2 linked regions of the Homo sapiens genome follow. The protein of the gene in region 1 purifies or fractionates together with the protein of each later gene. This does not show direct contact. Each region holds a gene or a part of one and is shown on either strand. Other genes may lie near its edges.

Region 1 (6,091 bases):
GGCAGCCCTTCCTCCATACCTCGTTGCTGCCACTAAACTTGGGAGTGTCCTGGAGCCAGGGCCAGGCCCAGGCCTGGGTTTCTTGCCATACCCCCTGAGGGCACCAGGACAGGTCCCAGAAAGGGGCTGCGCCATGAGGGGGCCTGCAGTAGGTGCAGAGAGTAACAACCCAGCATGCGCAGAGCAAGGGCCTGTGGAGTGGGTCCCCAAGGGTAACTTGGTGCTGGCAGATGCTTAACAGCCGGCTGTGGGCGTGCGGGAGGCCTGATGTGTGTTGTCAGCCGATTGCTGTGGTGTCAGTATTCAATATTATCATGACTGAGTCAAGCTGCCCTCATGAGGTCACTGAGTAGGGAGTTGGAAAAGATGCAAAATCACACACGCCCTTGTCGTATCGTCTTTCCACCATGCACACACACACAATGCAGCTCAGCCACCAGGGCCCGGCAGGGCCAGGGTGGAGATGTGCACGGTGCATGTGGCTGTGTGTTGGGGGCAGGGGCGGGAGGTTCTGCGGCTGGACTAGAGATGAGGTTGGTGGGCGCAGTGGGTTGAGAGGGGGACGCACAGTTGCCAATCACAGCACTCTCGCTGTGTTTCCCTGTAAACACTCAGTCTTCCCCCTCTGTAGGTTCAAAGAACGCGTACTGCAGACCCCAAATGACCTTCTGGCTGCTGGCTTTGAGGAGCACAAGTTCAGAAACTTCTTCAATGCTGTGAGTTCACCTGGTCCCTCCTTCCACACTGGCAGAGCAGACAGGAGTGGGCACTGGCTGGAGCCCCTACACAGCCCACAGCTCTGCTCCTCCTGGCTGGGGAAGGACAGAGGGTTCCTTCCTGCTTGTGGGGGTGTGTGGGCACAGGGAGCCCTCACCCTATTCCCTCACCCTATTCCATCTCCACCTCATGCCTCCCTATCCAATTAGTGAAGGGGCGGGATCGAGGACTCTCAGACGCTTGCCACTCTGAGTGTGCACGTGAGAATCCAAACCCAGGTAGTCATGGTGGGGAGACCCAACTGCCGCTCCCAAACATGCCTCTGGACTAGTGTACAAACTGCAAAGTCTTGCTAACCCTGGGTTACTTAGCTTAGGCAGAATCTCAGACTGATTTTCTAACTCAACCTGAGAATCTACAAATGAAAATGCACGTGAGGGCTTCACGCGAAGGGAGGGAGCGGAGGGAGAATGCAGAGGGAGGGCTGGGGCTTGCTTGGCCTCCCTAGCTGAGGGCCGGGCGGGCGCAGTTTTACAGTGTGGTGGAACTGGTAGAGAAGGATGGCTCAGTGTCCAGCCTGCTGAAGGTGTTCAACGACCAGAGTGCCTCGGACCACATCGTGCAGTTCCTGCGCCTGCTCACGTCGGCCTTCATCAGGAACCGAGCAGACTTCTTCCGGCACTTCATTGATGAGGAGATGGACATCAAAGACTTCTGCACTCACGTAGGTGCTTGGGGTCTCAGCCCCAGCCCTGGGCTCTGCTCCTGTGGCCCTGTCCTGCAGACTTCAGCACCCATCCGTAGCCAAGGGACTCGGGTGTCACGACTGCCCTTGCAATTCAAACAGAGCTAGGTCAGCAAGCTGCAGACAGGTCCCACCTGAGCTGCCTGAGCTGTGTGGCCTGAGGCAAGTCACTTCCCCTCTCTGGAGATTTCCCATCTGAAAAATAAGGGATTTGGACTGGCCTGTTTACAAAACCACAGTCATAGTCCAAGAGTCACATTTGCTTGACGTGTTTATGATGCATGGTATTTACCAGAAAGAGTTGCCGATATTTAAAAATTAGGCACTTTTCATATGAATATTTGGATTTCTGCTGGAAAGTAAGAAGTACAGCCCCCAGGTCCTTGCTCTTGCAGGGCAGTCTCAGCAGGCACTAAGCAGCAGCTGCCCTCTCTATGTAGGACATACGCCTGCTTGCCACCGCCTCTGCTTCTTCCATCGTCTCTGCAGCACCCGGACTCGCACCCTCACTCACCAGCCTAGCCTCTGTAAACACTTAAGCTTGAAAGGCACCCCTGGATGACAGGGTGCCTTTTATCTCTAAGATTCTTTGATGCCCAACCTGAAAAATGTCTGCCCCCCGTTTCCAGATCCCTCTAAATTAGTAGCCTGCTGTCAGGTGTAACTACAAGGTCTAGAATGGAAAAGATTCAGGTTCGATTCTTGCAATTGTAGCGATTTCTAGCTATGCTGCCTCTCAATGAGGCTGTTTCCCGTGTGGCATGAGAACGTCCATACCCAACTCATGGGATGTTGTGAAGATGACGTCCCAGCACAGAGGCTGTGACCATGACCCTGAGAGCCAGAGCTGAACTCACTTGTCCTCTGCCAGGCCTCCCTCCTAAGCTGGCTTGTTTTCATTTTGGCCCCTGCAGGAAGTAGAGCCCATGGCCACGGAGTGTGACCACATCCAGATCACGGCGTTGTCGCAGGCCCTGAGCATTGCCCTGCAAGTGGAGTACGTGGACGAGATGGATACCGCCCTGAACCACCACGTGTTCCCTGAGGCCGCCACCCCTTCCGTTTACCTGCTCTATAAAACATCCCACTACAACATCCTTTATGCAGCCGATAAACATTGATTAATTTTAGGCCATGCAGTGGAACCTGTCACCTAATGGGACTGCATTCTGAATGGAACATTCCGGCTCTTCAATTTTTTAAGCAATTTAGACTGTAGCAAGAAAATGTGCAGCCTTTTGGGCAAAGCCCCTGGGAACGAGGCCTATCCACTATGGACTATGGTAACTTGGTAGGATTTTTAGTATTTATTTTAATGGAGGGACAAATGCTTTCTAACTGGGCCCCCGACTCCGCACCCCAGTTCGCAGTGAGGCCCTGGGTGGGTCACCTGCCCTCTCTGGACTTGTTTCTTCAACTGGAGGAGGTCCCTGCCTATGCTGACATTCCATTGTAGAAAAATGGGGCCTCTGGTGTCTCTTTACCAGGGGCAGTGCCTCTCTGCGGGGGAGGAAAAGCTCAAGGTTAGCTGTCTTAACCCAAGTGACTTACCAGGCCTACAAAAGAGTCCAGTCCAGTCACTTGTTGGACTGGGCTCTGACAGATGGCCTATTGAGGTCAACTTGAATGTGAGGGCTACGGTGTGGTTTCAAACATTCATGATGGATGTATTTTCCTACCCCTAACTTAAGGAGAAAAAAAAAAAGACTTCCTTTTTTTGCCAAAGTCCAGAAAGGGGCCTTTAGCCTTTAGTAGGAGCTCAAATTGTTGGGGCCCCTCTACCTCTCTCAGGGCTAGAACTGCCTGACTCTTGGTGGACGAGCCCTTCAGGGTTCTGCTTTCAGCCCCACCTGGACAGAGGCTTACAAGACTAGGGTCTGGACCAGAATCTGTGTATTTCTGTCTGGGACCAGGAAGCCGCAGCTGTCCCATCATCCCCAGCAAATCCTAGAAGTGGAGTCTGGATACTTCAAGGATAGAAGTGTTGGCACGCACAGCCATGGACCCAGCTGAGCAGAGCAGACGCTTTGCAGGCTGCCCCTGGCTTCTTCCTCCCTTTCCCGCTTCTGCTCTCTTTATGGACTGGTCAGAGGGTAGGTGGGAAAGAACAGACAAGCCATGGGAAGTTGGCAGTGGGGAGATTTCCACTGTGGAAACCGCCTGGGAATTCCGGCCAGCAGCTTCCTCCTTCAGCCACCTGGCCATACCCCTTAAATAAGCCCCTCACCTTGCTGCCTCAGGACCTTCAAGATTCCATCTGTGGGCTGGCCGGCAAGATGGCACCAGTGGGGACCCACACCCTGGCTGGGCAGAGGTGCTGCTAGCAACCTCTCTTCCTCTATAAGAGGAAATGGAAAATGCAGGGTGTGGAATTGCCCTTTGGGGTCCTTCCTTAATTGAAGGCCACCTTCTCACAGGTTTCATTCTGCAGGGATTTACTGGAATCTATTGGTGCTGCTGCATGAGTCTGCTGACAACCTGACTGCACAAGGACTGGGTAGCAGACTCCTCAGAGTCCTCTTGACACAAATGTCAGATTTGTGTCACTCTTCTGCCTTCGTGAAAAGCCAATAGCACTCTCAGATATCAGGGGATTTTAGTTCCAAGCAGGGACCCTGGTTTCCATACTGCCCTCAGCTGGAGTTTGGATCCAAAGGCTCTGGCTAAGTCATTATGTCACTTTTTCACAGGAATGTAAATTTGACTGTCACCTCTGAATTTGTTCAGTGTCCCACCATGGTCTATGAGAAGTACACTGGAAGCGTGGGGGGAACACATGACATGATTTGTGAATATCATCATCTTTGCCAGACAAGTCTCCAGGGGATCCCTGTTTCCCAACTGAAAGGTGTGAACGGACACACACACAGCCTGGATGACGCCTTGGCTGTTCTAAGGGGCTGTAAGGTGGGCTCTGGGCCTTCCAGCTAGGCTCTCAAGCACAGCAGAAGCCTCACTGGGCTGCTATGTCTCTGTATTTGTGGCTTGTGTGGTAGCCTCAGAAGCAGAGCTGTTTGGCAGACTGGCTGGAGAAATTCCCTCTAGGAGACTTGCCTGTGCTGTGCTTCCAGGTCACAGAGCCCCCCGGAAACTCACAGGGGCCCTCTTCCCAGAAAAGAATCTATTCTATCACTTCAGAATCAGGACACTCAAGCTCTGGCAGAGGAAGGCCAAGTTACTTTCATGGTCTTACCCTCTGCTTTTCCCCTTTTTGCAAAAAACCACTGGCCAAATCCGAACCATTGCCCTTGTTTCCCCCACGTTCTCTCTCAGATCTTTGTCTCGAAGGGAAAACATAGTGGATGAAAAGGTGTGGCAGGCTTTGGCACCTTGTTAAAATTTCTAGTCATCTGTGGATGTTACCTTGCTTGTCCACAGCAGCCAGTCACCCTGGCCAGTCCCACTTCCTGGATAATTCTCTACCCTCACCCCACAGAGCCATCTCTCTCCAGACCAAAAGCTGGAAGGAGAGTTGCTTTGAGAGCTTGTTTTTACAACTGCATGTTTATTATGATACTTTCTCTCCAAAGGAAACTTTTAAATCAATGGGAACAATTAGCAACAGAAAGAGCACAGTCCCTGCTTTTGACTGGGTTCCTATTTTAAGCACAAATGAGAGCTCTGGAGCCAGAATGCCAGGGTTCTAACTTCAGCATTCACTTACTAGCTGTATGATCTTGGCCAAGTCACTTCACCTCCCTGAGCCCCAATTCCCAAGTTTGTGAAATGGCAACAATACCTATGTGTCACTGGATTATTGGTTAAAACAGAATGAGATTCCTTGTGTGAAAATAGCTATTATACCTGACACACTCATCGTATGGGCTCTGCAAAGGGATATTCCCCAACCTGTCCTTCCTGACAGGAAGCATAGGGCACTGCAGATGGGGAAGCATGTCACCTTGGCAGTGACTCGGTGGCTTCCCAAGCAGGAGTGTCAGGGGAACCATGAGAGAGAGTCTAGGAGCAAACACATCACCACCCTGAGCAGATACAGGAGTGGGGAGGGGGCTGTAACTCAGTGAGTGGCTTCCAGGGGCCCCAGGCCCTGCTGGATGTGGGCCAAGCCCTACAGCTTCCCTAGGCAGTAAGTAAAAACATTCTCCTAGCATTAAAATGGTTTCCATAACTACTTTTGTCCTGGCTTCTTAATACTGGGTACCTGGCATGCAGCCAAGAACTCTGCTTTTCCGTGGTGCTTATGTATTAAGTAGATTAGCTGGGGAGGGATATTCCTTGTTTAATGGCAGATCCAGGACACTCCGGAAGCTCTGCCCACCAACTTCACCTTACCAGGCGAGAGTAGCACTGCTTGGAAGGCTGCTCCTGCCTTTTAAAGCCTGTCTACGTATTAGCTCCTCCACCAAGGAAAAGAATTTGCTGTTAGATGGCTAGGGCAGGACACGGACAGTCATCAGGGGATCTATGTTTGGCTTATGGCAAGTGGCTTCACTCCCACGGCTCAGGTGCCATTAGGGGATATTAAGCCCGCTTACTAACCCCACTGACCACCACTGCATCATTTGGAAAATGGAGAGTCTCCCTGCCATTCTCTGATAGCTGTCAGTCAGGAGCTGACCTCACAGACGGGCAATTTCCCCTCCTATTCCGGTCACTGGTGACACTGGG
Region 2 (3,489 bases), on another chromosome or scaffold:
AGCCTGTCTCCAGTTCACATGTGCAGATGGCCTCACTAGCTCTGGAGATGAAAGGGGTGTGTCAGAAGCTCGGCTCCTGGGGCTCCTCTGTGTCCTGTGCTATGTCCCCGTCTGTGAATGAATTTCAAATGTGGGAACAGAGGCTGCTGGTCAGAGCTGTTCTGCTAGCTGAGGTCAGAACAGGCCACTTCACACCTGTCTGACTAAACACGTTTAGGTCACTCGTCCCAGTCACCAAGTGATCCCTTCAGCCTTGGACCCTCCCTTACTGCTGTGTTGGTACAGCCCTGGAGCCACCCCTTACTGCTGTGTTGGTACAACCCCGGGTCCCCTCACTTACTGCTGTGTTGGTACAGCCCTGGACCCCCCCCCCCCGCTCCAACTTACTGCTGTGTTGGTACAGCCCCGGACCCTCCCCAACCACTTACTGTTGTGTTGGTACACAACTACCACCCCAACCCAAGTCCTGGAAGCAGAGTCCTCTTCTCCTGGAAGCCATCTGGGAGAACAATGGCTTTATTCAGATGTTGGTGCCTCTGCCCCTCTGGTGCCCCCGATCCCCACAAGGGGCCGCGAGGCGGGCAGGTCACAGCAGGTTGAAGTCCCCTTTGTGCTGTTCCAGCCACTGGTCCAGCGTCAGGGCCTTGGGGTTGAGTCTCAGGGTCAGCTCGATGTCACGGTCGGGTCTCAGGGCATAGAAACGGAACATGTTGGCCAGGTCCCGGGCACCGGGAAAGCCAAGCTTTTCGTAGTCCTCAGGAGTCATCTGGAAGCAGAGGAGCCTGTCGTGGCCGGCGTCCTCCAGTGCCCCGGGAGGTGGCGGGGCAGGGAGGCCGGATGGGCTGGGGTCTCCCGACCTGCTACACCCAGAGCCACTATTGTCTCGGTCCCTGACCCAGGTCCTCCGTACAAGGTCATTTGAAAACTTCTAAGAGCCGAAAGTTCAGAAACTGCTGCTCTCCTGAGCTGCCTGACATTGTAGATCAGTTTAAAGATTGTTCTTGGCCAGATGCTGTGGCTCATGCCCGTAATCCCTGCACTTTGGGAGGCTGAGGCAGGCAAATCTCTTGAGGCCAGGAGTTCGAGACCAGCGTGGCCAACACGATAAAACCCCGTCTCTTTCAAAAATACAAAAATTAGCCAGCCTGGTGGTAGGTGCGTGTAATCCCAGCTACTTAGGAGGCTGAGACAGGAGAATCGCTTGAAACCAGGAGGTGGAGGTTGCAGTGAGCTGAGATCACCCCACTGTACTCCAGCCTGGGCAACAAGAGTGAGACCCTGTCTCAAAAATGAATAAATAAAAAGACTATTATTTTCAGATCATGAGACGAAAATATCTCAGTCCCTTCCAAATCAGAGACCTGCCTGCATCACTTTCTTTCTCAAAAACCAAAGCTTGACCAGACACAGTGGCTCACACCTGTCATCCCAGCACTTTGGGAGGTGGAGGTGGGAGGATCGCTTGAGCCCAGGAGTTAGGCCCACCACGCCGGGCTAATTTTTTGTATTTTTAGTAGAGACGGGGTTTCACCGTGTTAGTCAGGATGGTCTCGATTTCCTGACCTTGTAATTGCCCGCCTCAGCCTCCCAAAGTGCTAGGATTACAGGTGTGAGCTACCGCGCCTGACCCAACTTTCGTCTTTTAAGGACTCCAGTGTTTCCCAGATTCTTTTTTTTTTTTGGAGTTGGAGTCTCGCTCTGTCGCCCAGTCTGGAGTGCAGTGGCATCTCGGCTCGCTGCAAACTCTGCCTCCTGAGTTCAAGCGATTCTCTTGCCTCAGCCTCCCAAGTAGCTGGGATTACAGGCGCCTGCCACCACACCCGGCTAATTTGTTTATTTTTAGTAGAGATGGGGTTTCACCCTGTTGGCCAGGCTGGTCTCAAACTCCTGACCTCAGGTGATCCACCTGCCTCGGCCTCCCAAAGTGCTGGGATTACAGGCGTGAGCTACTGCACCCAGCCTCCCAGATTCTTTAATGAGTATGTCTTACTTTCCTAATGGTAATGACAAACATTAGAAACCAGGTACCCAAGAGTCTGTCCAGTAGGCCTCCTGCCCACCCAGCCAGGCCAATGGGGGCAGGGGTCGGCCCTATCTTTCTAGCCTCTTTCCCTTTAAATCCCCTCCCACAGGGGAGGGGTCGGGTCTATCTTTCCAGACTCTTTTCTCTTCAAATTCCCTCCCACAGAGGAGCCCGGCAGGGCCTGCATTTTCACCCCTCCTTGCCTTGGCTCCTATGGCCCTCTCCTCCTGGAAGCTTTTCTCTCTATTTGGTCAAAACATCTAAGCCAGAAATTTCACTCTGTGGCCAGTTAGCTCCTGGAACAGCAGAAAATAAACGTTGACGATGAACGAATGAATTTAGATGTACTGCCCAGAGGTGTGGGCAGCCCTGGACACACCCTCCCTACGGGAGCTAGAAAGCCCTGACAAGGATGCCTGAGTCACCTGGGGCGGGAGGCCCACCTTGGCATCGTGCACGACCTTGCGGGTGTGCTTGGTGAGCAGGGCAGCGTACTCCTCGGCCGTGTGCCTGCAAGTGCTCAGCCCGATGTTCTGGCCGACGTATTTTTCTGGCATCTTCAAAAGGCTGAGCACCACAGGACCCAGGTCAGACACGGACATGCCATCCATGGGAACGTCACCTGTGGGCAAGCCTGTGGGGCAGAGACGTGAGCTGGTATATGTCCCGAGGGCAGACAGGGGCAGGGACAGAGCCCCTCTCCAAAGGGTCCAAGCTGGTTCTTCCCAGCAGTCAGCTGCACACTCCAGCACTCGGGCATAGCTAAGACAAGTCTTGCTATTTGTGGTAGCACAGAGGCAGCAGTGGAATTGAGTCAGGAAACGGGATGGAATCCGGGTACTGCCACCTAGGGCAGGCTGTTGAGGCTCTCTGAGCCTGGGTTGCTGCATTCCTAGAATGGGGCTAAGAACCTGGGCCTGCCCAGCTCTCTCAGCGCTAGGATGACAGAGAAGGGACAAAGGAAAAGGACTCTGAAAGCTGCTACAGAGAGTGTGGCTGGAGCCCAGGGTCTCCGCTAATCTGGAGGCACCAGCCTGAAGTACTCTGTCATATCCTAGATTCCTGGAAGCTGGAACGTCCACCTCTGAGTAGATACTCCAAATACCAACTCACTTACCAGGAATCCTGATTAACCAGACACCAACGGCTGGCCTAGAGCAGCACGTCCATGATAAATGCTTCATAAATCCTGAATGAATGAATGACTCGCAAACTTCCAGGCTGAGGTTTTGTAGATGGGGAGGCTGGCAACTGTCTGGGTGTGGCCTGTGGAATGCTTGGGTCCTATCCTCCTTACCTAGAGACAGGGGCCAGTGCAGCTTCCTGTTCAGATCACCTGGGAGCTCGAGGGCACAGAGCGCACAGACCGGAGCAGGAGATATCCCTGACTGCAGGTTTTTTTTTTTTTTTTTTTTTGAGATGGAGTCTCGCTCTGTCGCCCAGGCTGGAGTGCAGTGGCGCAATCT

What was found. Proteins that work in one complex are often made in the same cells at the same time.
Region 2: the proteins of OTUB2 (region 1) and NMRAL1 purify together in Homo sapiens (affinity purification with western blotting; 2 studies listed by BioGRID, with this or other methods). This does not show direct contact.

What each region holds. Positions count from the first base shown.
Region 1 is NC_000014.9:94,043,340-94,049,430, forward strand, and holds the end of OTUB2 (ubiquitin thioesterase OTUB2), read left to right. Parts: intron 1-631; coding exon 632-716; intron 717-1,246; coding exon 1,247-1,441; intron 1,442-2,376; coding exon 2,377-2,583; 3' UTR 2,584-5,591; downstream 5,592-6,091. UniProt on the Homo sapiens protein: Hydrolase that can remove conjugated ubiquitin from proteins in vitro and may therefore play an important regulatory role at the level of protein turnover by preventing degradation.
Region 2 is NC_000016.10:4,461,194-4,464,682, forward strand, and holds the end of NMRAL1 (nmrA-like family domain-containing protein 1), read right to left. Parts: intron 2,658-3,489; coding exon 2,467-2,657; coding exon of another isoform or gene 2,449-2,466; intron 2,320-2,448; coding exon of another isoform or gene 2,284-2,319; exon of another isoform or gene 2,227-2,283; intron 767-2,226; coding exon 587-766; 3' UTR 501-586; downstream 1-500. UniProt on the Homo sapiens protein: Redox sensor protein. Undergoes restructuring and subcellular redistribution in response to changes in intracellular NADPH/NADP(+) levels.